Linked DNA regions of Homo sapiens: region 1 is linked to region 2. The links come from fine-mapping of genetic effects on gene expression. A gene starts in region 2. The other region holds a variant in brackets. All regions are shown on one strand. Distances are from middle to middle. Region 1 overlaps UBXN7 (UBX domain protein 7). Region 2 holds the start of UBXN7 (UBX domain protein 7).

What was found.
Region 1: its variant is fine-mapped to the expression of UBXN7 in whole blood (TOPMed, PIP 0.93).

The regions. Positions count from the first base shown.
Region 1 is chr3:196,341,859-196,354,481 of GRCh38, forward strand. It overlaps UBXN7 (UBX domain protein 7), which reads right to left. Exons shown (of 11, transcript NM_015562.2): 11 at 5,804-12,623. Among named protein-coding and RNA genes, the nearest start is that of TM4SF19-DYNLT2B, 9.8 kb to the left of the region's middle. The variant C/T (reference allele first, on the strand shown) is at 7,362.
Region 2 is chr3:196,425,592-196,438,214 of GRCh38, forward strand. UBXN7 (UBX domain protein 7) reads right to left here and starts at 6,836. Exons shown (of 11, transcript NM_015562.2): 1 at 6,736-6,836. The coding sequence starts at 6,808. It overlaps UBXN7-AS1 (UBXN7 antisense RNA 1), which reads left to right and starts at 5,794. Exons shown (of 2, transcript NR_046745.1): 1 at 5,794-5,850; 2 at 6,611-7,443. RefSeq lists enhancers at 5,593-6,367, 5,944-5,993, 6,368-7,141, 7,074-7,153 and silencers at 6,704-6,763, 6,784-7,033.

The DNA of each region.
Region 1 (12,623 bases), 84 kb before region 2:
CCACCCCCAGGTTCTAAGCGATTCTCCTGCCTCAGCCTCCTGAGTAGCTGGGATTACAGGTGCCCACCACCATGCCTGGCTAATTTTTGTATTTTTAGTAGAGACGGGGTTTTGCCATGTTGGCCAGGCTGGTCTCGAACTCCTGACCTCAAGTGATCCACCCGCCTTGGCCTACCAAAGTGCTGGGATTACAGGCGTGATCCACTGCACCTGGCCAGCAAAAGAGATTTCGCATGCAGTGTCTGTTAGAACATCTCATATTTAGGCAATCAGAATAACTGAATGGCTGATTGCCGTATATCACTCAGATTTTTTTTTTCTCTCGATATGGGGTCTCGTACTGTCACCCGGGCTGGAGTGCAATGGCACAGTCTTGGCTCACTGAAACCTCTGCCTCCTGGATTCACTCGATTCTCCTGCCTCAGCCTCCCCAGTAGCTGGGATTACAGGCTCACACTGCCACACCCAGCTAATTTAATTTTTTAATTTTCTAATTTTTAGTAGAGACAGGGTTTCACTATGTTGGCCAGGCTGCTCTCGAACTCCTGACCTTGTGTTCCGCCTTCCTCGGCCTCCCAAAGTGCTAGGATTACAGGCGTGAGCCACCACGCCTGGCCTAGCACTCAGATTTTTAGATGATATCTCCATGTCCAACCCAATGGCTTATGTAGATATCATTAAAATGTTGCTTGTGGGACAAAGGAAAGTGCTGGAATTTGTTTTTAATCCCTTAAAGTGTCAAACTTAGTGTGGGGCTGGTGATGGCAGCTGTGGGTTTTTGCTCCTTCGGGTAAACTTGTGATGATTAATTCAATGATTATCTTATGGACAAGACACTTCTTTCTTTTTTTTTTTTTTTTGAGACGGAGTCTCGCTCTGTCGCCCAGGCTGGAGTGCAGTGGCGCGATCTCGGCTCACTGCAAGCTCCACCTCCCGGGTTCACGCCATTCTCCTGCCTCAGCCTCCCGAGTAGCTGGGACTACAGCGCCCGCCACCACAACCGGCTAATTTTTGTATTTTTAGTAAAGACGGGGTTTCACCGTGTTGGCCAGGATGTTCTCGATCTCCTGACCTCGTGATCCGCCCGCCTCGGCCTCCCAAAGTGCTGGGATTACAGGCGTGAGCCGCCGCGCCCGGCTGAACAAGACACTTCTTTAAGAAATCATGTACTTGAGATAAACGGGTCTCGTAAGGCTAGCGTTGGGACTATCTCTTCATTTCCATGTGGCGAGCCTCCTAGGGCAACAGAGGCACGGTCGCTGCCATGAAAGCACTGAAGCTTCACCTCTTTGAGACGTGTTAATAACCGCGGAGTGTGGCTCTACTGGAGATGGAGCTACTTGCTGTTACTTTGTCGGTGATGCTCCTAGGGAGGAGCAAATGGGAGTCTGAGGACATAAATGACGAACAGGGCCTGGGCTGAGAAAACCAGTCATGCCACAAAAGGCTTCCTGAGGCTGAAAGATTTGGGAGACGGCCAGGTGCCAGTGACCCACACCTGTAATCCCAGCACTTCGGGAGGCAGAGGCCGGTGGATCACTTGAGGCTGTAACCGCCCAAGGGGTTCACTTGCCCGCTGTCTAGACAGAGCCGATTCGTCATGACAGGGGAATTGCCATAGAGAAAGAGTAATTCACGCACAGCCGGCTGTGCGGGAGACCGCAGTTTTATTATTACTCAAATCAGTCTCTCCCAGCATTCGGGGAGCAGAGTTTTTAAGGACAGCTTGGTGGGTGTGGAGAGCCAGTGAGCCGGGAGTGCTGATTGATCAGGGATGGAATCACAGGGAGTCAGCTGTCTTCTTGCGCTGAGTCAGTTCCTGGGTCGGGGCCACAAGATCAGATGAGCCAGTTTATCCACCTGGGTGGTGCCAGCTGATCCATCAAGTGCAGGGTCTGCAAAGTATCTCAAGCGCTGATCTTAGGAGCAGTGTAGGGAGGGTCAGAATCTTGTAGCCTCCAGCTGCATGGCTCCTAAACCATCATTTCTAATCTTGTGACTAATGTTAGTCTAGTCCCCCGGCAAGAAGGAGGTCTGCTTTGGGAAAGGGCTGTTACCGTCTTTGTTTTAAACTATAAATTAAGTTTCCCCCCAAGTTAGTTCAGCCTACGCCCAGGAATGAACAAGGGCAGCTTGGAGGTTAGACGCAAGATGGAGTCGGTTAGGTTGGATCTCTTTCACTGTCTCAGTCATCATTTTGCAAAGGCGGTTTCAAGGCCAGGAATTTGAGACCAGCATGACCAACATGGTGAAACCGTCTTTACTAAAGATACAAAAATTAGCTGGGCGTGGTGTGCACAACCGTAGTCCCAGCTACTGGGGAGGCTGAGGTGGGAGGACTGCTTGAGTACGAGAGGCGGAGGTTGCGGTGAGCCGAGATCGCGCCACTGCACTCCAGTCTCGGCAACAGAGTGAGACTCTGTTTAAAACAAAAAACAAAAACAAACAAAAAAAGTCCTGGCGCGGTGGCTCACGCCTGTAATCCCAGCACTTTGGAGGCGGAGGCAGGTGGATCACGAGGTCAGGAGATCGAGACCATCCTGGCTAACACGGTGAAACCCCATCTCTACTAAAAATACAAAAAATTAGCCGGGCGTGGTGGCACGTGCCTGTAGTCCCAGCTACTCGGGAGGCTCAGGCCGGAGAATGGCGTGATGAACCCGGGAGGCGGAGGTTGCAGTGAGCCGAGATCACACCACTGCACTCCAGCCTGGGAGAAAGAGTGAGACTCCGTCTCAAATAAAAAAAACAAAAAATAAAGACTTAGGAGAACAGGCTAGACAGATGTTCCATTCTGGGGTATATTTGGGGATCTGGAGGTGGTATTTGAGCAAGAAATAGAGGAAGTTGATGAAATAGAATTCACTGGCAGAAGAGAAGATGATACAGCCAGACAACCAGGCCAGCTGTTTTCTAGTGTTCCCCAGATGAGAGCGACAGGACTAATCAGCCTCCTGTGGGTGGGCTCTAAACTCAACTGAAAGCTGACAAGAGAGCACATTCCCTTAATTGGAGGGAGAAAAAAAGGGAAGATATTGAAAGAGCTGCCTTTTATACCAGACCACTGAAGAGGAAGTTAGGGTTTTCTCATTAGTATATAAAAATCGTAAACTTCCACCCACCCAAAGTAGATTTCTGCCTCCAACATTGCACTGAAACTGTTCTTGGTCTCCAGTGATTTCGTGTCTCTGATGAACGCTACACTGTCCTCTTTACTTGACTCTAGACATAGTTAGCCACAGGATCCTTCTTGAACATTCTTACTCTTGGCTCCCTTGACACCCCACTCTGGTGTTTTTTTGTTTCTTTTTTTTGAGACAGAGTTTTGCTCTTGTCCCTCAGGCTGGAGTCTGGAGTCCAGTGTCACCATCTTGGCTCACTGCAACCTCCACCTCCCGGGTTCAAGCAATTCTCCTGCCTCAGCCTCCCGAGTACCTGGAATTACAAGCAACCGTGCCACCACACCCGGCTAATTTTTGTGTTTTTAGTAGAGGCGGGGTTTCACCATATTGGCCGGGCTGGTCTAGAACTCCTGAGCTCAAGTGATCTGCCCACCTTGGCCTCCCAAGGTGCTGGGATTACAGGCGTGAGCCACTGCGCCCGGCTGAGATTTCTCCTTTAAATAGAACGTTGTGGAGTTTACTTTTAGGCTGAGACCTAAAGGATAAAAGAAAGTGATCCGTGCTAAGACGAGGAGAACTCAAGCAGAAGACATGCCTCGGCTGTGGAGCAGGAAGGTGTTTGATGTTGGGGTTTGAGAGAAGGCCAGTCAGCTGGCAGGCAGGGGGCAAAGGGGGTGGCATGAAGCAAGGAGCTTGGGCATTCTGAGTGGAAGGAGAAGCCAGTATGCGGAGAATGGGTCGGAAGAGAGTAAGAGCAGAGACTACTGCAGTGGTCACGATAAAAAGCAGGTCACTTGGACCAGAGTAATGGCAATAGACTGAAAAGTAGGGTTACCTTTTATGCATTTTGGAGGCAGAAGTTAAAGGACTTGCTGTTGGATTAGAGATGGGGGAATAAGCAAAAGAAAATGACTTAAGTTTCTGGCAGGTTCATAGGTAGTGGTGTCACTGCAGGTCTGGGTGGGGAGGCGTCATCTTAGATGTAAGTGTGATACTTCCAACTATAGGCGCAGTGTAAAAAGTCGGACATGTGAGTCTGAAGCTTGGAGGAGAGACGGGCTGGAGTTGGAGATGTGAGAAATCATTGGCATTATACATGGCGGTTGGTACTATCAGAATGAGATCACAGAGGGAGAGTTAGAGGGCCAGGTCCTGGGGATCACCACCATAAAGACCCAATCAAGGAGGTGCAGGCAGTGAGAAGAAACACCAGGCAGGGCGCAGTGGCTCACATCTGTGATCCCAGCACTGTGGGAGGCCGAGGCAGGTGAATCACTTGAGGTCAGGAATTCGAGACCAGCCTGGCCAACATGGTGAAACCCCGTCTCTACTAAAAACACAAAAATTAGCCGGGCGTGGTGGCGGGCACCTGTAGTCCCAGCTACTCGGGAGGCTGAGGCAGGAGAATTGCTTGAACCTGGGAGGCGGAGCTTCCAGTGAGCTGTGATCAAATCACTGCACTCCAGCCTGGGCAACAGAGCGAGACTCTGTCTCAAAATTAAAAAAATAAAGAATTCTCTACTGGCTCCTTTTCTATTTTTTTTTTTTCATTCTATTAGAATCAGATCTGTTTTTCCATGTATGTTTATCGTCTGTTTCCAACTAGAAAGTAAGTTCCTTGAGGGCAGAGGCTGTATCTGTTTTGCTCCCCATCACATACATCCCTATTATTTGGCACATGAGGCTGGAGCATGGGGATGAGAAATGGTTCCACAAGAAAAGGGGGGGCACAAACCCATCACTGTAGAACTGTGAGCTAAGCAGCAGTCCCTTTTTTTTTTTTTTTTTTTTTTTTTTTGAGATGGAGTCACTCTGTCACCCAGGCTGGATGCTATCTCGGCTCACTGCACCCTCCACTTCCCAGGTTCAAGCAAGTCTCCTGCCTCAGCCTCCCGAGTAGATGGGATTATAGGCACTGCCACCACGCCCGGCTTTTTTCTTTTTTTTTTTTTTGAGACAGAGTTTCACTCTTGTCGCCCAGGCTGCAGTGCAGTGGCACGATCTCGGCTCACTGCAACCTCTGCCTCCTGGGTTCAAGCGATTCTCCTGTCTCAGCCTCCCAAGTAGCTGGGATTACAGGCGGCCGCCACCACACCCAGCTAATGTTTGTATTTTTAGTAGAGACGGGGTTTCACCATGTTGGCCAGGCTGGTCTCGAACTCCTGACCTCAGGTGATCCGCCCATCTCAGCCTCCCAAAGGGCTGGGATTACATGCATGAGCCACTGCATCCAGCAGCAATAACAATTTCTGTCATACCATATAATCGTATCTCCTTTTTGCCCATTAATTTAGTAATTATCTTTCCTTCAATTAAGCTAAGTCCTTAATTAACCATTAGTAATTACTGCTGGTCTGAAAGAACAGACACTGAATATTCGCCCAAGTATGTCAAACACAGAATCATACTTACCTAACAAGCCTAGCTTACCCAATGTTTCTGTAACAACTGGACTAATATTTACAGAGTGTTTACCATGAATGTTTGACATACCACAAAGAGCAGAAAAAAGGCTAGCAAACGTTACACATAACAACGGGACTACAAAGTAACCTTTGTCAATCAATAGTAACTGACCTAAATGAGAACGTGAGGGGGCAAGCTTTTGGAATCTCAATTGTATTACTGAAAGTAATATCCAGAGTCTTATCTTGTAAAAACAACAACACAAAAAAAACTAATACTGAAAAGTTTTTGTTTTTATTTCCAAGATCAAATATTACAACAGGACATTTACATGTATTTATAAAAAAATGCAGCAGTTGAATGTATAGATCAGAGGTTTCCTTGAGTTTGGTCCCTCTCTCAGCACAGTGAGCTGATGTCTTCAAAAGACTTATCGTCCCACTCCCTTCCCTCCCCCACCCCATTGTCCCCCCACCCTCCCCGTTTCAAGTTGCAGTATTAATATAAAGCAACTGGGTACAACACAGCAAGAGTATTCACAATTTGGTACAGACCAAACCAGAGGATCCCCAACTGACAGCAAGATCCTCCTTCTGGAAATTATTACCTATAGACTAGGTAGATCTATAGGTAGATCACACCCAGTTATCTAAGATTTCCCTGGTTTTAGAGCAAGTGGAAGTTCCATTGAGTCTTAGCCAGTAGTTACAACTCTGCGTTACCTAATGGCATGTTTTTCTCCTCTTACAAGTTTAATTTTCTACCGCCTCCATGTGTCTTCAAATTTAAGGCTTTCCCAAGCACCTTTATTATGACTTACTAGATATACAGGAGGGTCTCTAATGTGTCTTGAACAAAAAAATTTAGTGGATGGTCCAGCTGCCCCTTGCTCAACAATCCCAAAGACTTCTTCCCACCACTGAGAAGAGCTGCAGAAATCAACGGTATCTCCTAGCACCATTGGAGAAAAGGCCCAGAAAACAGAATTCGATGTGCATTTTAGGGAGCACTTGCCAGAAACATTACAACAGGAGCACTGTCTCTGTTATCTTCTTGGATTCAATCACAAATTTAGAGTACAGATGAAATTTAGAGCCTGTCCTGCATTAAGAATGCAAATCTCAGTAAGACCACCCCCACACACACTTTGTCCAGAATAAGTTGAGCCACAAACATCCCAGGGAATCTCTAAATACTGTTAGGAACTGCTTTAGAAAACACTTTAAAGCAAATACCCCAAGTTGACTTCACTCAAGCCCCCAACCCACCCTCATCATCCCTATCCCCCTAGAAATTTCATTCCTTGATTAACTTCTCTGAGTAAGATGTAAAGTGAGGTTTGGAAAATGACATGAAACATGAAACATGTTTAAAAACACAATCAATGAAGACATGCCAGAACTGGACATCCCAGGTGACTTCAAATGCATTGTTCAAGCCGAACTCATACAAAGCATGCACAGAGCCTGCACAGACACTGCTGAGAGTTTCCAGGGAACAATCAATACCTACTCGAAAAAGGACTTTCCTGAAGGGCAAACAAAACAAAACAAAACAAAACAAAACAAACAAAACAAAAAGTAACACTGGATGTTTAGAATTTGTTAACAACAACAACAACAAAAAACCATTCTGGAAAAAAAGATTATCAGAGGAGTGAAGAAAACCGTGTCTAACAGATTCATGCCAAAGCTTGGATGGAAGCCCCTCAAAGTCTAAGTATCGTGTTAGCATCAACTGGTACTCATTTCTCTATATCTAAGACTAGAAGATTCTCTCACAGCTTTACTGTTTCCTGGCAAGTGTTTTCAACAGCCTTTCCAGCTGAAGGGA[C/T]GAACCCAGGAAAGTAACAAGGCCCAAGACCCCACATGGGTCAGATAAGCAGCCCCTACTAGAAGCTTGCTACTCGTTAACTGAAAAGTGGAGGCCACGCACTACTTTCACTCTCTCTAGCAGGTGAAAGGGGATTTTCTGATGGCAACAGTCACTCCGTGTAAGGTTTAACTTACAGGGCAATAAGTTATCAAAAAGTTATTGTTAAAAGCATATGATTAGTGTCATAAACATATTTATATTTGGAATTACACCATTTGATATCTCCATTAAGAATGCAAAGCTTTGAGAAAAGCATACTGTAAAATCATGTTGCTGCAAACAGCAAGGCATCCAGCTGAGTGTAAGCAGTCTAATGTCATCAAACTGAAATGGACCCTCGTGACGGGCACTATGGAACCAGCTACCTAGATAGAGAGAAAAAAGGAGAATGGCAGGGAACGGTTCCAGATCAAGAATCTCTCCCTTATCAGTTAAGAGTTCCATACTGAGTCTATGAAAAAAGCAAATTAAAAAGATTTTAAGAAAGGGGGAATTCAATTCCAGGTCAGAATTTATCTAATGATTTGATATGTTTCCCATTTATCATGTCTAAAAAATGAATGACTCATGCTAACCCAGTTAGATTAATAACTTCTTTTGATGAGAAAAAATATTACTTAGGTTTAGTCCAGCTTAGCTTGACTATTCTTCCCATTTGAAAACCCAAATGACCTTTAGAAGGGATATAAAATACCCAGAGTATTGTGATCTCTAGAGAGGAAATACAATTAAACAATAAAAACTTGCTGTTTGTTGCCAAAGAATTAAGTACAATAATGCGACTTCTCATATTTATAGATTAATCTGTGATTGCTCTTGGGAAAAATACTATCATTGGTATTTGCCATCTCTAATCCTAGAAATAAATCTGGTTATCTTTTGAAAATACTTTCTCATTACAGGAATGCTAAATTATGTTTATTAAAGTAGTTCAAATTGGATTGCCCAACTTTATTTTGAAATCAATAGCAAAGAAAGGCCTGTGCCAAAAATCATCATGTTTATGAGAATATCTGCAATTTTAAGCAACACAACAGCAACTGGTAGGCCACAAAGAGGGTGGGGTATCACAGAGCTAGCCATTCTCTATATGAAACCAGAGAATTCTCCTTAACTAGGGAGAAAATGAGCTATAAAAGTAAGTTTGCCTCAAAAATGTCCTTCAATTTTATAAAAAATGAAGATTGTTACATATTAAGACTTTGAAATGGAATTTCTTAAACATAGCCAATTACACTAAAAATCATAACTATTTTCAGAGAATGAATGTTAAAAATAAATGGTGGAGAAGTAAAATGGAAAGCAGGATTAAAAGATTTCTAATTAAGGGTCTGTCACTTCACAGGACAACTAGCAAGGCCATTATAATCTCTATTTTTAAAAAGACATCAAGAAATTCTTGATTCTATACTGTCTCTCTAGCAGGACTGACACACAGGTGAGTCAAAAACCATAACCATCACTGAAATACCAAATCTCTATGTAACAGGAGAAACCGATATATTGGTATGGTATTCTCTGTTGGGTTATCTGCAGTTCTAAAGAACATTCTTGCCACTATTCTAAAATGTGTACAGTGCAACACCATGTTTCACGGCAAGACAATAACTGAAAAGCTAAGCCAGGCAATCCAGTGAAGTTGAATGTCCATAGTACACAGCTGTCTTTAGCCTATTCATCAAGGCTGGTATTACCGGAAAACTGCCATGTTCACCAGAAGAGCTGTCTCTTCCTATGCTCATTACATTTTAGTTTTACAAAGACTACTAATTCATCAGCCTGCACCCCATGATTTACTACTGCGTAGTTACATGATGGTCAAAAAAGGCAGAGAGACGGTAAGAATGACATAATAAAGATACATTCTGTGGAATAAAAAACATTTTTAAGTCAGCCTAATTGTATCTTTAAAAAGCTGTTTCTGCCAAAACCAGGTGTGAATCTTATACAAATCAATTTCCCAACAGGCCAGTAAAGTACTTTAAGTACACAAGTAAAAATAAAATTTAGTGCCAGCGTTAGTGTCATATTTGGTTCTCATTTACATTTTAGTCATACTCAACACTGATTAGGCACACAGCATTAAGTTTTAAAAAATAATGAATTGTTTACAAGATTATTATTACTAGACCTATAACTACTATACTCTCCTCTTTGGAGATTTCAGTCATCGCAGTAAGATTAAGAGCAAGTTGTTGGTCAAATGATACCTGAACACAGAATAAAAAAAAGAGAGAAAAAAAAAGTAAAGAAACTGATTAACCAGCACACTTTTAATTAGCCTAGGGATAATACGCAATCACGGGGAGAGACTGGAAGCATGAAATTTTGGAAAAGGACTTCAGAGATAATCTAATTTGTTGTTCTAGAAAAGGCTGAGAACTATTAATCTAGTCCAATTATCTCATTTTTCAGACGAGAAACCAGAGATTAAGAAGAAAGAGAAGTGTGAAGGTAACAACTAGCAGAGCTGTTACCCAAAGGGCTCTCACACCTCCAGTGCCCTTTCTGCATATAACATATACTATACTATGCATTGGATTTGTACCTGGGTAGAGAAATTAAATCTTTCCTTCATTTTTCGGTTGCTAGTGGCTCCCTCTGGTATTTTCCCTAAGTGTGCAAGTAAGATTCCTGCGAGCTAGGAATCTTTACTCCGGGGGATCAATAGTGAGATCCCCGCAAGCTAGGAATCTTTACTCCAGGGATCAATAATCCTTTCCTACTTGGGTACTGGTTATGCCTTAGTGGCAGAACTTCATGCCCCAAATCTAGAAGTTACAAAAGGTGGAGCTAAAGAAAAAGGTGAGTCAAAAGAAAACGTGAGCTACAGTGCTTGCCACTTCAGTCTTGTTTAAGACTTTGCTAACTAAAACATATTCTTCCCTTTTTCTAAGTTTGAACTAATAGGTAAACATTTACATGCTCTCCAATTATTTCATGTGTAGTGTGTCTCTCTAACTGGATAAAACAGGCAGGAATCATATCTTATTTATTATTTTTTGAGACAGAGTCTCGCTCCATTGCCCAGGATGGAGTGCAGTGGTGTGATCTCGGCTCACTGCAACCTCCGCCTCCCAGGTTCAAGAGATTCTTGTGCCTCAGCCTCCCCATTAGCTGGGATTACAGACAGCCACCATGCCTGGCTAATTTTTGTATTTTTCAGTAGAGATGGGGTTTCACCATGTTGGCCAGGCTGATCTCGAACTCCCAACCTCAGGTGATCCACCCACCTCGGCCTCCCAAAATATTGGGATTACAGGCATGAGCCACCACACCTGGCCAGGAATTAGATCTCAGATTTCAAAATACTTCCAACTTCTATAAAGAACTCAATAGCTAATTGTTGACTTGTAAGTCAAGGAAGTAGAATTATATACAAGATTTAAAAACATACACACAGAGGGTTCAATAATCTGGTATGGATGGGACACAGAAAACAGAATTGTAGATCGGGCGCAGTGGCTCATGCCTGTAATCCCAGCACTTTAGGAGGCCGAGGTGGGCGGAACACGAGATCAAGAGATCGAGACCATCCTGGCCAACATGGTGAAACCCTGTCTCTACTAAAAATGCAAAAATTAGCCGGGCGTGGTGGCGCTCACCTATTAAAAAAGGTAATTGTATCTTTTCTGAAAAATGTTTAAAAAAAGAAAAAATTGTTTTTTTACCCTTTTCATTTATTCTTGGCAAATAATGCCACGTGGCAATTTTACTTTCACATCTTCACCAGTGCATCATTTTAAAAAAGCAATAATCAGCCTCTCAAAATAATGGCATAAATAAAAATGTATAGGCATAGTGCAAATCCCACAACTTTAACCCAACTACTTCCTCTATATTTATGGGAACAAAACTAAGTGACACTTTACAAAGCCAAACAATGAGAAGAGAATCATCTGGGTAGCTTGATTCTCTTGCTGAAGGAGACCACAGCATGGACTCTGGATTCCAATTCTGATTTGCCACTCACTAGCTATGAGTCCTGAATAAGTTCTCTATACCTGTTTTCTTAACATGGGAAGAAAGTATACATTTTGTACGATTCTTCGGGAGATTGAAGAGGCAAATGTACACAAAAGTATCTGGTGCATGCCAATTAGTATTAAGTTTCCTGTTCTTTTCTCATTTGGCACTGTTGTTTTCTCTTCTCCAGTTCCTTCCGATACCAATTTCAAAAAAGTATTCCTCTCACTTTTTTCCCACTAGTTTTCTTCTTCTTCTTCTTTTTTTTTTTTAAATTTGAGATGGAGTGTCGCTTTGTCGCCCAGGCTGGAGTGTAATGGTGCGATCTTGGCTCACTGCAACCTCTGCCTCCCAGGTTCAAGCCATTCCCCTGCCTCAGCCTCTGAGTAGCTGGGATTACAGGTGCACGCCACCACACCCAGGTAATTTTTGTATTTTTAGTAGAGACGGGGTTTCACCATGTTGCTCAGGCTGGCCTCGATCTCCTGACCTTAGGTGATCTGCCCACCTCCGCCTCCCAAAGTGTTGGGATTACAGGCATGAGCCACCGCGCCCGGCCTTCCTGGTAGTTTCCATTCCATCTCCCTGTATTTTTCTCTTATCACTCTCGAAGTCTATCTTTCTTGTTCTTTTCCTCCCTAGCTTTTTTTTTTTAAACACTCCTTTCAAGCTGTGTCCAACACCCACAAGGAATGACTATTTTTAACTAATCTTACTGACCTCATTTAATCTATTCAATAAAACCTCTGCCCTAAGGAGCAAAGAAACTTGCAGAGGAAGTAAGGCAAACTGGAAGAAGCATACTGTCAGCGGATTAAATTCTTGAGCAAGGCAATACTCCTTATGGATTCTTCCCATGTACAATCCGTAACTCTTCCCATGGGCCTTTATATCAACCCTAAGATAATTACACTCCTGCCTCAAAATAAAATAAAATAAAACCCACCACATCTTGTATTGTAGACATCCCAGCTGCATGTTAAGCTGAGTGAAAGTACCATGCTGTCTTTTAAATCACTTTATATCTACTTAATCATCCCACAGTAACCCGAGTTGAAGAAGTTACTTTGGTTTCTCATAAATGAATATGCACGTGCTGAACATATCGGAAAGAACCACACCCTCTCACTGATGAACACGTTGGCAGTTCTCCCAACTGTTTTATCAAGAGAAGCTAGAAGGTAAAGAAAAGGAAACAGAGCCCTATAGGAAAAATGATTGACTTCACACGTTTGAGCGATTTGGGCTTCAGCT
Region 2 (12,623 bases):
TTCTCAGAATAAAGACAAGATTTTTTTTAACATGGCTTATAAGGCCCAACCCAATCTCCCATTTATCTCTTGAGGTCCATTTATTGCACTAGCTGTGCTTTACTCATTTGGAATTATCAATTCCCTAAACCGATTGTCTCCCCTCTCTCATCTCTGTCTGTATACATGTCTGCCCAATTCCCCTCCAAGTCTCTGCATGTTTCTCCTGCAAGAAACATCTTCCAGATTTTAGATAAAAAAGTATTTATTCTGGGAAGGTTTTCTTGACCTCCCTCTTTTGTGCTCCAGTATTAGCTCCTTACCATTCTCTCACTGTATTCTAATACCTATTCGTGTGTCTCTATTCCTGTTAACCTTTAAGCTTTCTGAGGACAGACACCACGCCTTGCTCACAGTTGTATCCTTAAGATGTGAACCATGCCTGGCACGTAGCAGTCTACCAATAAATGAATCTACTAGTAAGATTCCATTCGCAACTCAAAATTACCTCCCTTAAATTTCTGAAACTTCAGCCAGGCATGGTGGCTCAAGCCTGTAATCCCAGCGCTTTGGGAGGCTGAGGTGGGTGGATCACCTGAGGTCAAGAGTTTGAGACCAGCCTCGCCAACAAGATGAAACCCCATCTCCATTAAAAATACAAAAAATTTAGCTGGGTGTCGTGACGCGCATCTGTGGTCCCAGCTGCTCAGGAGGCTGAGGCAGGAGAATCACTTGAACCGGGGAGGCGGAGGTTGCAATGAGCCAAGATCACAGCACTGCACTCCAGCCTGGGTGACAGGATAAGACTTCGTCTCAAAAAAAAAAAAAAAAAGAAATTCTGAAATGTATTCCCTATTGAAACTATTCTTAAAATTCCTGAAGTTTTCTCTTAACATCTATAATACTGTGACCACCTTTCCAGACACAGAGAACTTAATCATAGTTTAATATTAACCCAAGAGAAAGGAAATGTTCTGTACAAAAGCATATGAATGAGGCCAGGCGCGGTGGTTCACACCGGTAATCCCAGCACTTTGGGAGGTCGAAGCAGGAGGATCACCTGAGGTCGGGAGTTCGAGACCAGCCTGACCAAAATGGAGAAACCCCGTCTCTACTAAAAATACAAAATGAGCCGGGCGTGGTGGCGCATGCCTGTAATCCCAGCTACTCAGGAGGCTGAGACAGGAGAATCGCTTGAACCCGGGAGGTGGAGGCTGCAGTGAGCCAAGATCGTACCTTTGCACTCCAGCCTGGGCCACAGAGTGAGACTCTGTCTCAAAAAAAAAAAAAAGAACATGAATGGAAATTGGCCATAAAGTTAAATACCACAAACATGACAGCCCCTAATTTTTATAATAAATATGCACTCATCAACCATCTGAAAGATTAAGGTCTCTTCTACAACTGAGGTTCTATAATTTTCTCAAGTATGTTATTGCCGCTATGCACAAAGCTCTATGAATTTCCGTACCAGTAACCTCTTGTACTCTTCTTAGCCTCCACTTTCTATGCCCTCACATTTGTCCTTAGACTGCTAGCTTATTTTTCACCTGTTCTATAGTGTCTATGTATCCCTCACCTTCACTCCATGAATTATTCTGATTACACATGTGCACCAGTGTATATGTGTAGTGGATGTCAGCCCAAAGTTGGTGCTAATGGAATACTGCCATGGCTCAAAACATTTTTACTTTTATTTACTTTTTCTTTTTTTGAGACAGGGTCTCGCTCTGTGCTCGCTTCAGCAGCACATATACTAAAATTGGAGACAGAGTCTCGCTCTGTCGCCCAGGCTGGAGTGCAGTGGCTGGATCTCGGCTCACTGCAACCTCCGTCTCCTGGGTTCACGAGATTCTCCTGCCTCAGCCTCCTGGGTAGCTGGGACTACAGGCGTGCACCACCATGCTCAGCTAATTTTTGTATTTTTCGGAGAGACAGGGTTTCACCAGGTTGGCCAGACTGGTCTGAAGCTCCTGACCTCCGGTGATCCACCCGCCTTGGCCTCCCAAAGTGCCTGGGATTACAGGCGTGAGCCACCGCACCTGGCTTCAAAACATTTTTAAAAATTGCTCTTTCAGAATAGATCCAGCTGCATATTTTTCCTTCATGTTTTGAGAATTGATATGACTTCTGAGTTTTCAACAGTAATTCAAAGCCATGTATGATAAATATCAGAGGAGATCAAACAGTAGTATTGTAAAATGTGGAATGACTATAAAAGTAACAAGACTGGTTTTCTTATGTAGCTTTAAATGACACAGAAAGCATCAGTGGGGCCGGTTGCAGTGGCTCACGCCCATAATACCAGCACTTTGGGAGGCTGAGGAGGGCAGATCACTTGAGGTCAGTTTGAGACCAGCTTGCCCAACATGGTGAAACTCCATCTCTACTAAAAATACAAAAATCAGACGGGCATGGTGGCTTGAGCCTGTAATCCCAGCTACTGCGGAGGCTGAAGCAGGAGAACTGCTTGAACCCAGGAGGCGGAGACAGCAGTGAGCCGAAATCATGCCACTGCACTCCAGCCTGGGTGACGGAGTGAAATTCTGTCGAAAACAAAAACAAAAACAAAAACAAACAAAAAGCAAGCATCAATGGTAAACCATACTGTATACAGCTTCTCAGTGTGGTTACTTCAAAGGTCATCACTTCTCTTGGCTACCTGCTTATCAGTCTGACCATGCAAAAAAGGTTTGTAGCATAATGTTAAGTGAAAATTTCAGAACCGTGTATTTTAGCTGGGCATGGTGGCACATGCCTGTAGTCTTAACTGCTCTGGAGGCTGAGGCAGGAGAATCACTTGAGCCCAGGCGGTAAGGATGCAGCAAGCTATAATTGTGCCACTGTACTCCAGCCTGGGTGACAGAACAAGACCGTCTTTAAAAAAAAAAAAAGAAAAAGAAATCTCAGAAATTGTATATACTATGATCCACAATGTAAAAATAAGCATATAAACAAGAAGTGGAAGATAATATGTAAAATAAATATTGCTGTTGTGAGAAGGAGAATTAGTTCTTTTCCCTTTTATCAAAATTATTTCGGCCAGGTGCAGTGTCCCACGCCTGTAATCCCAGCACTTTGGGAGGCCAAGGTGGGTGGATTGCTTGAGCCCAGGAGTTCAAGACCAGCCTGCACAACAAAGTGAGACCCCATCTCCACAAAAAATAAAGAAAGTTACCCTAGAGGCTGCAGTGAGCCGTGATCACACCACTGCACTCTAGTCTGGGTGGCAGTGTGAGACCCAGTCCGTCTCAAAAAAAAAAAAAAAAGTTTTTATGATATTGTCTTTTTAATAATCTTTTTTAATCAGCCATTACTGAACCAGGCACAGTGATGTGCACCTGTAGCCCCAGTTACTGGGAGGGCTGAGGCAAGAGGATGGCTGAGCCCAGAAACTGGAGAACAGCTTGGGCAACAAAGAGAGGAGACCTCCATCTCTTAAAAAAAAAAAAAAAAAATCAAAAATCCGTCATTAGGCCAGGCGCGGTGGCTCACACGTGTAATCCCAGCACTTTGGGAGGCCGAGGCAGGCGGATCACGAGGTCAGGAGATCGAGACCATCCCAGATAACACGGTGAAACCCCGTCTCTACTAAAAATACAAAAAATTAGCCAGGCGTGGTGGCAGGCGCCTGTGGTCCCAGCTACTTGGGAGGCTGAGGCACGAGAATGGTGTGAACCTGGGAGGCAGAGCTTGCAGTGAGCCAACATCACGCCACTGCACTCCAGCCTGGGTGACAGAGCGAGACTCCGTCTCAAAAAAAAAAAAAACATCAGTCATTATTTCATACTCACTGAATCAGAGAGAGATCTGTTCTATTCAGTAAGAAATAAGACTTTTCTAAAATCTTTCAATTTTCCGTTCTATTTCTAAATGCCAAAAAAAGATAAGACTCACATTTATTTTTATTTTTTCTTTTTCTTTTTTTTGCTCCTGCCTAAAAAGTAAGGACTCACATTTTTGATGATGCATTTGTTTTTACAAGAATATTGAGCTTCCAAGTAAAACCTTTGTGAAATCAGAGCATAAGCTATTAAGGTCACTAAAATAAATATAAAATACCTTTTAATTATAAACACTACGATTAAAACGTATGTGGAGAGAACCCCAAAAAAATTTTAAGACATGTAAAAAAGGCAAAAAGAAATCAATCATGTGTTTCTAACGGTTAATCACTATCTTGTAAAAAGAATCCCAAAAATTATCAATAGAAATTCACAATATTTGAAGAACACTCAAAGGTATTTTCGCTCTGTAGATCTCCAGATACCACTGTCTACTGATTGAGGGACTCCAACTTGATCCAGCAATCAAGCTACGTAGACGAACAGAAACAGAATTAAAGCAATTAAGTGAGTCAATTCAACTCACCACACTTCGGTTTTTGTGTGTACCTAATAAAAATGTTGCAACAGAAGAAGTAATGTGGCGTTAAACCAATCAGAGTTTGGGAAGAGTAGTAATTAGCATAAGAAACTGAAAATTAATTAAGTGGCTTTTAGGGCCAGGCGCGGTGGCTCACGCCTGTAATCCTAGCACTTTGGGAGGCTGAGGTGAGTGGATCATTTGAGGACAGGAGTTCAAGACCAGCCAGGCCAACATGATGAAACCCCGCCTCTACTAAAAATACAAAAATTAGCCGGGCCTGGTGACAGGCGCTTGTAGTCCCAGCTACTCGGGAGGCTGAGACAGGAGAATCGCTTGAACCCGGGAGGTGGAGGTTGCAGTGAGCCAAGATCGTGCCTGGGAGATCTGCACTCCAACCTGGGCAACACAGCGAGACTGTCTCAAAATAATAATAATAATAATAATAATAAGTGGCTTTTTTTTTCTTTTTGAGAAATGATCTTGCTCTGTTGCCAGGGATGGAGCGCAGTGGTATGATCTACTCACCGCAGCCTTGAACTCCTAGGCTCAAGCAATCCTCCCACCTCAGCCTCCCCAGTAGCTGGGACTACATGTCGGTGCCACTACATCCAGCTCATTTTCTTATTTCTGTAGAGATGGGGCCTCACTATGTTTTGCCCAGGCTGGTCTGCAACTCCTCGCCCCATGTGAATCTCCAGCCTCCGTCTCCCAAACTGCTAGGATTACAGGCGTGAGACACCGCGCCAGGCCCAAGTGGCATCATAAACCATCTCTAGGAAATCTAAAGGATTAATAATGATATTCACTTCTCTATCAGATTCACTGCAAAGATTTTTCTATATAAGCATAATGCAGCAACACTAACTTATATACACAATAATCTTCTCCATAGCAATGATTTGTCAGACATTAGGAAATCCTTTACATATTTAATATAATAATCCAATCCTTTATATCTTCAATAATCCAATCACAAAGTTCAAAAATATTAAGAGAAGTTATCATGCAACTCCTCACCCCAATTTTATTGCAAATTTTACTTTACTTTGACCTGATGTTCCATGCCCACAAGCTAGATAACAATGCGTCAAATATCTCGTTATCATTGCAAAGCAAAAAAATAAAACTTGCTTTAATATAAAACGGTAACTAGTATACAACCTGTAGTAGTTAAAACAATATAAAATTTTACTTAACCAGATATTGCACGTTAAACTCTAGGAACATTAACAGTGGAAACATTCTCCGCATCTAACAAATTACGAGATAAAGTATAGATCCGTTGAGAGGGAACTAACATTCTGACCTCCTTCCAAAACGACAAACTAGAACGGCAAAATTACACTCAGGCACATTGGAGTACTCTTCTCTCAAATCACTCCACAGAGAACTTCATCATTTGCTCCGCCCTCTAATAACTCATGCAAGAAAAGTTCAGCACCATCAGAGAGAAACAAGACAGAGAGAATTCATAGAATGGCTTTAGGGCCTTTCCTCCAGGCGGTAAGAGGATCTGCGTGTGTCCTTCGCAGGGGTCCAAAGGGAGAGAACCTAGGCCTAGGGTTTCGGGGATACCGACACCCAGAAACAGATTTTCTCTCAAAGAAGTTTCTGCCGCCATCCCTATCTTATCAGCAGGAGGCCCCGGCGCCATCGTCTCCGTCTTTATGATTTTATTATGGGGAGGTGGGAAACGCCACCCTGGATTCTTCCAGGCCTCCCCTATTCAGCTTGGGGGTTCCCCCTCATTCTTCCCTCAAAGCCTCAGTCCCTGAGGTCCTCCTCAGCACCCCCCGCTTCTGGCGGCCTGTCCCCCGTGAAGTGTAAAGGCACGGCCGAACCCACCGGCCTTGCCGTGAAGGCGGGAGGGCCCGAACCCGCCAGGGCCACGGCGATGGCTCCGAGGGGCCCAGAAAGGGGAAGGGCAGGCCGGGGACCGGGGCAGAATGACCTGGCCGGGGAAGAAAGGAAAAAAGGAGGTGAGGAGATGCACCGCACCGCAGGGCTGCACAGAGAAGGGAAGATGATGAAGGAGGAGGAGGAGGGCGGTGGCCCGGGTGCGGCCCCCTACTCCTCCCGCCCCCGGGTCCCCGGGCCGGCGGGGGCGGACGGACTCGGCCCATTCCCAGGTCTGGGCTGGCGGGGGGTTGGGGGATCTCCCTCCACGCTACTAGGAGACAGAGAACGAGGGTATCGGGAGCGGGGGGGGGCTGTCTCCCGCCTGAACCCGGAGACCCCGACGCCGTCGTCGCCTCTTCCTCAGGAGGGAGGACGGCAGCTGTGGGTAAAGCCCGAAGGAGGAATGCCTGAAGGTAAGGGGAAGCCCGGGGCAGACCCGCTGCCCGCTCCGGACCCCACTCTCCACCTTCCGGTAACCGCGTCTCTTACCGGTAATGGTGGTGAACTGTTGAATTAACCCCTTCAGCGCCGAGGACGCCGCGGAGCCCCCGTGGGCAGCCATCTTACCGCCGCCGCCGCCGCCGAACAACAACACAGACACACACGGACTGCCCTCCCCCACTTCGCCGTGCGGTGTGCGCAGGCGCATTGACCGCCCCTCGAGCCCCGCCCCTCCCGTCCCCAGCGGTCTGCGCAGGCGCATTTTCCGACCGGGCCCGCGCGCTCCCAGCTCTCGGGTTGGCTGCTCGGTTGCTGCCTGCTCAGTGCATCCTTTTTGCCATTGCTGGTGCCTTCCTCTCCGGGCTCCAAGGCTAGCCTCGCAGGCGCGGTGTCGATTCCTAGATTCCGAAGGAAGCTTCGGTCTCGGCAGATAGTTCTTCGCATTTCAGCTTCGCAAGCTTTATTGACAGAGCCAACTGCCGATGACAGCATTTTTCTGTTTTGCGGTTGTACCGCACTCTATTAGGTTTCCTGCAGGTCCCATCAAAATGCAAACCCTACCTCCTCGCTTTGAAGCGACTCTCCCCGTACTCGCCCCCCAGCCTCTAAACTAATGGCTTAGCTAACCGATTGCGACGAGTGAAATACCAGAACCCTTCATGCCAAAGAAAGCACTTAGCGCGGGGTTGCCACCCAGTAGGTTTTCATAAACGATTGTTTAGTCTGCTTTCCTTAAATAAATTGGCCATCACGTCTCCCGTTAGGGTCTTAATGAGACCCCAAGAGGCGTCATTTGTATAAAAAGAAACTCTGTATATGCAGTAGAGGAAAGAAAACATATAGAAAGGAGACTGGAAAAGTGTGCTCAAAACGCTGGTAACGGTTACCTCCAGAGAAGAGAACGATCGGGACGATGGTCAAAGCGGACCTTACTTCGAGTTTCTTATTTATCTTTTTATTTTTAAACAAACATTATTGGCCGGGCGCGGTGGCTCATGACTGTAATCCCAGCACTTTGGAAGGCCGAGGTGGGAGAATCGCTTGAGGCAAGGAGTTCGAGACCAGACTGGGAAATATATCAAGAATCCATCTCAAAAAAAAAAAAAAAAAAAAGATATTCGTGTGTTCCTTGAATAATTTTAAGTATTTTGCAAAACAGTTACATGAGTGGGGTGCGCTCAAATCCAATAATCCCCCACCTTGCCCATAAAGTTAAAAGAGATTCCAAGTGATTCCGTTTGTTTTAGCCTCCCACCTTCCAACCTCCACCCACATATTTTGCATCTTCATAGGAAAATGGCCCAATAAAAGATGGGATGAGCTGTCTGAAGAATTGACACATCCTAAGAGTAAACATGCTATTGGGGAGAATTAAGAAAGAGCCATGTCAAATCAAGGGGTATAGTTTTTTGTTTTGTTTTGTTTGACAGGGAGTCTCGCTCTGTCGCCCAGGCTGGAGTGCAGTGGTGCAATCTCAGTTTACTGAAAGCTCCGCCTCCCGGGTTCAAGCGATTCTCCTGCCTCAGCCTCCCAAGTAGCTGGGATTACAGGCACACGCCACCACGCCTGGCTAATTTTTGTATTTTTAATAGAGACGAGGTTTCACCATGTTGAGCAGGCTAGTCTCAAACTACTGACCTCAAGTGATCCACCCGCCTCGGCCTCCCAAAGTGTTGGGATTACAGGCGTGAGCCACCACACCCAGTCGGGCTGTAGTTTCAAGAAGATATGATTGATGTAAAAGAAAGCAGACTCCAGTAATCCCAGCACTTTGGGAGGCCGAGGCGGGCGGATCGCCCGAGGTCAGGAGTTCCAGACCAGCCTGGTCAACATGGCGAAACCCCATCTCTACTAAAAATACAAAAATTAGCTGCTGTGGTGGCGCGGGCACCTGTAATCCCAGCTACTTGGGAGGCTGAGGCAGGAGAATCACTTGAACCCGGGAGGCAGAGGTTGCAGTGAGCCGAGATCATGCCACTGTGCTCCAGCCTGGGTGACAGAGCAAGACTCCGTCTCAAAAAAAAAAATGTATTTTAAGTTAAATGACAGATTGGTCCTGGCACTGCCTTCCAGGTTGCTGCAGTTCTCTAGATGGGCTGAGGAAGGGCAGGGATCAGTCATAAATTTCGGCAGCTGATTCCTTCACATTTGATGCAGAGGTGCAAAAACAGGCAAGGGAAGAAAGCCAAATCAAGAAAGTGTTACCTCTGTCTCCCTTCATCCTAAAGGCTGAGTCACTAGCCAGCCATGCAAAATCAAGCTCCACGTAAAATGGTATAACACCATTAACTACAAAAACTAAACACAGTGATTACTGTACCTCCATCAGATGGAGAGGCCAGTAATGAGCTCTGCAGGTTTATCAGGTTTATTTCCAAAATCTTATAATTCAGATTTAATGATATGATTTTGATTAACAGTGCAGGAAAAGGTGATAAAGTCTGTGGCATCCACAACTCCAGAAGGCATTTTTTTAGAAATTAAAAAATAAGATAAAAGAAAATTAGACAGGTGGCCAAAAAGATTCCATGGTCGGGGGGAGGGGGGGAAAGAAGGGAAGAAAATGAGACAGTTTCCATGGATAACCAGGGAACTGGGAAAAATAAATAAAGAAGTAATGAATAATACAACCTTGAAAAGCTTTTTTGGATTATTAAAGAATATGAAGGACTGACCAGTTGCGGTGGCTCACACCTGTAATCCCAGCACTTTGGGAGGCCGAGGCTGGGGATCACCTGAGGTCAGGAGCTCCAAACCCGCCTGACCAACATGGTGAAACACCATCTTTACTAAAAATACAAAATTAGCTGGGCGTGATGGTGCGTGCCTGTAATCCCAGCTACTCGTGTGGCTGAAGCAGGAGAATCGCTTGAGCCCGGGAGGTGAAGTTTGCAGTGAGCCAAGAATGAGCTACTGCACTCCAGCCTGGGCAACAGAGTGAGACTCCGTCTCAAAAAAAAAAAAAAAAAAAAAAAAAAAGAATATGAATATGAAGGATGGGTGTCGTGGCTCATGCCTGTAATCCCAGCACTTTGGGAGGCCAAGACAGGAGGATCACTTGAGCCCAGGAGCTTGAGACCAGCCTAGGCAACATAGGGAGACCCTATCTCTGAAAAAAGAAAAAAAAAGTTTAATTAGCCAGGTGCGGTGGTGCAAGCTTGTAGTCCCACCTACTCTGGAGGCTGAGGCGGGAGGATCACTTGGGCCCAGGTGGTCGAGGCTGCAGTGAGCCATGATGACACCACTGCACTCCAGCCTGGGTAAGATATGTGGAAATCACAAGGAACAGTGGAGGATCTCATACTAGTAACAGTAGAACTGTCACAACCCATACGTCCAAAGAGATGAGAACAGAGAGAAGTTAGAGAAATCCCAAGTGAGATTTTTTTGCAGAGCAAACCACCATGCAAGAAGCAATGACCTTCTGTCAAGGGACATAAATAAGCAGCTTGAGGCAATCTCAGAGAGGAGCTCAGGGACATAGATACCCTGACCTCGATCTCCTCTTCTGTCTCCTGCCAGGAATCCCCAATGGCTGAACCCAAATGGAAGACAGAGGGCACAGCAAGAAGCCCCTTGTAGTTCCCACAGGCAGCCCCGGGGCAGAGAGCAGGATGGAAAAGAGGAAATTGATGGACACAAATGTAAAATGGAATGGTCATGGAAATACATTCCAAAACTTGAGGAGCTTTTTGGTTTGTTTGGGTCTTTTTTGTTTCATCTTGTTTTGTTTTTTGAGACAGGGTCTCTCTCTGTCGCCCAGGCTGGAGTGCAGTGGCAGGATCTTGGCTCACTGCAGCCTCTGCCTCCTGGGTTCAAGCGATTCTCCTGCCTCAGCCTCCCAAGTAGCTGGGATTACAGGAGCAGGCCACCATGCCCAGCTAATTTTTGTATTTTTAGTAGAGACAAGGTTTCACCATGTTGGTCAGGCTGGTCTTGAACTCCTGACATCAAGTGATCCACCTGTCTCAGCCTCCCAAAGTGCTGGGATTACAGGGTGAGCCACAGAGCCTGGCCCGAAACTGATGGAGTTTTAACAGAAGCTAAAGGAGAATATATAAGCTTAACTGGTTATATTAGAGAAGAAGACTGGAAAATAAGTAGCTCAGCATTTCATCAAGAAGTTAATAAAGGAACAACAACTCAGCAGACAAGGAAAAATGTGAAGAAAAAATGCTAAAGAGCAGAAATTGACAAAATAGAATACAAAATACAGAAGAGAGGATTCATAAAACCAAAAGCTGGTTCTCTGAAATAACAATATGTAAAACCTTTGACAGGCCAGGTGTGGTGGCTCACACCTGTAGGCCCAGCACTTTGGGAGGCCGAGGTGGGTGGATCACCTGAGGTCAGGAGTTCCAGACCAGCCTGGCCAACATGGTGAAACCCCGTCTCTACTAAAAATACAAAAATTAGCTGGACGTGGTGGCGGGCGCCTGTAATCCCAGCTACTTGGGAGGCTGAGACAGTAGAATCACTTGAACCCAGGAGACAGAGGTTGCAGTGAGCCGAGATTGTGCCATTGCACTCCCGCCTGGGTGACAGAGTGAGACTCCATCTCAAAAAATAAAAAAATAAATAATAATAAAACCTTTGACAGATTAAGAACAAAGAGAAAGACACAAACAATATTATGAAAAAAAGACATAGCAGACATAGCCGTGGCTTGAAAAATAAGAGAATATTATGAATAATTTTATGCTGATGAATTAGGAAATAGATAAATGACAGTTTCCTAGAAGAAATAATTAACAAAATGGAACTCAACTATGCATAGACTTATGACCATTAACAAAATGAAATCTGCCACACAAATGACCACACCCCAGTGATTTTACAGGAGATTGCTACCAAAAAAGTTAAGAAACAGATTATCCCAAACTTATACAAATGCTTCCAGATAAAGAACAATGGGAACAAACAGCTCATTCTATAAGGGTAGCATAACCTTGAAATCAAATCAAACAAAATAATAAATGAGAATTCATCCTCACTCATGGCTACTGAAACAGATATCTTAAATTAAATCAGAATTTAGAAATCCACATATTCACACATACATGTACATATTTTTTTTATTGGGTTTACTTCAGGAATGCAAGCATAATTTTACAGTAAAAAGCTCTTACAAATGGCACAGTTGCTCGCCCCTGTAATCCCAGCTACCTAGGAGGCTGAGGTAGGAGGACCACTGGAGCCCAATTGTCTAGGAGTTTGAAGCTGAATGAGCTATAATTGCACCCTGCACACTCCAGCCTGGACACCAGAAACTCCAGAAAAAAAAAAAAAAAACACCTCTGTCAATGTAATTCACCATAGTAAAACAAATTAAATAAGAGAAATTATTTGATTCATTTGATCAGACACAGGAAAACCATTGATATAAATGCACATCCATTCACAAAATGTTTTAAAAACCTTAACAAACTACATAAAGAAACTTCCTTAATCTAATAAAATGTATCTACCAAAAATGCAGAGTAAACAGCATCCTAGTTAATAATTAGACATTTAAAGTCAGTAACAATAATGCGTTCTATTATTACGTCTACTCAATATTATTCTAGAGGTTCTAACCATGGCAGTGAGACAAGAATAGGCAGTAAATTAAAAACCTATATTCAGGGGCCAGGCGCCTTGGTTCACGCCTATAATCCCAACACTTTGGGAGGCCTAAGTGGAAGCATCGCCTGGAGCCAGGTGTTTGAGAGCAGCCCAGACAACATAGTGAGACCTCATTGCTACAAAAAAGAAATTGTTTTTTAATTATTCAGGCATGGTGGCACATGCCTGTGGTCCCAGCTACCTGGGAGGCTAAGATGGGAGGATCACTTGAGTCCAGGAGGTTGAGCCATGACTGCACCACTGCACTCCAGCCTGGGAGATGGAGTGGGACCCTATCTCAAAAAAAAAAAAAAAAAAAAAAAAATCTATAT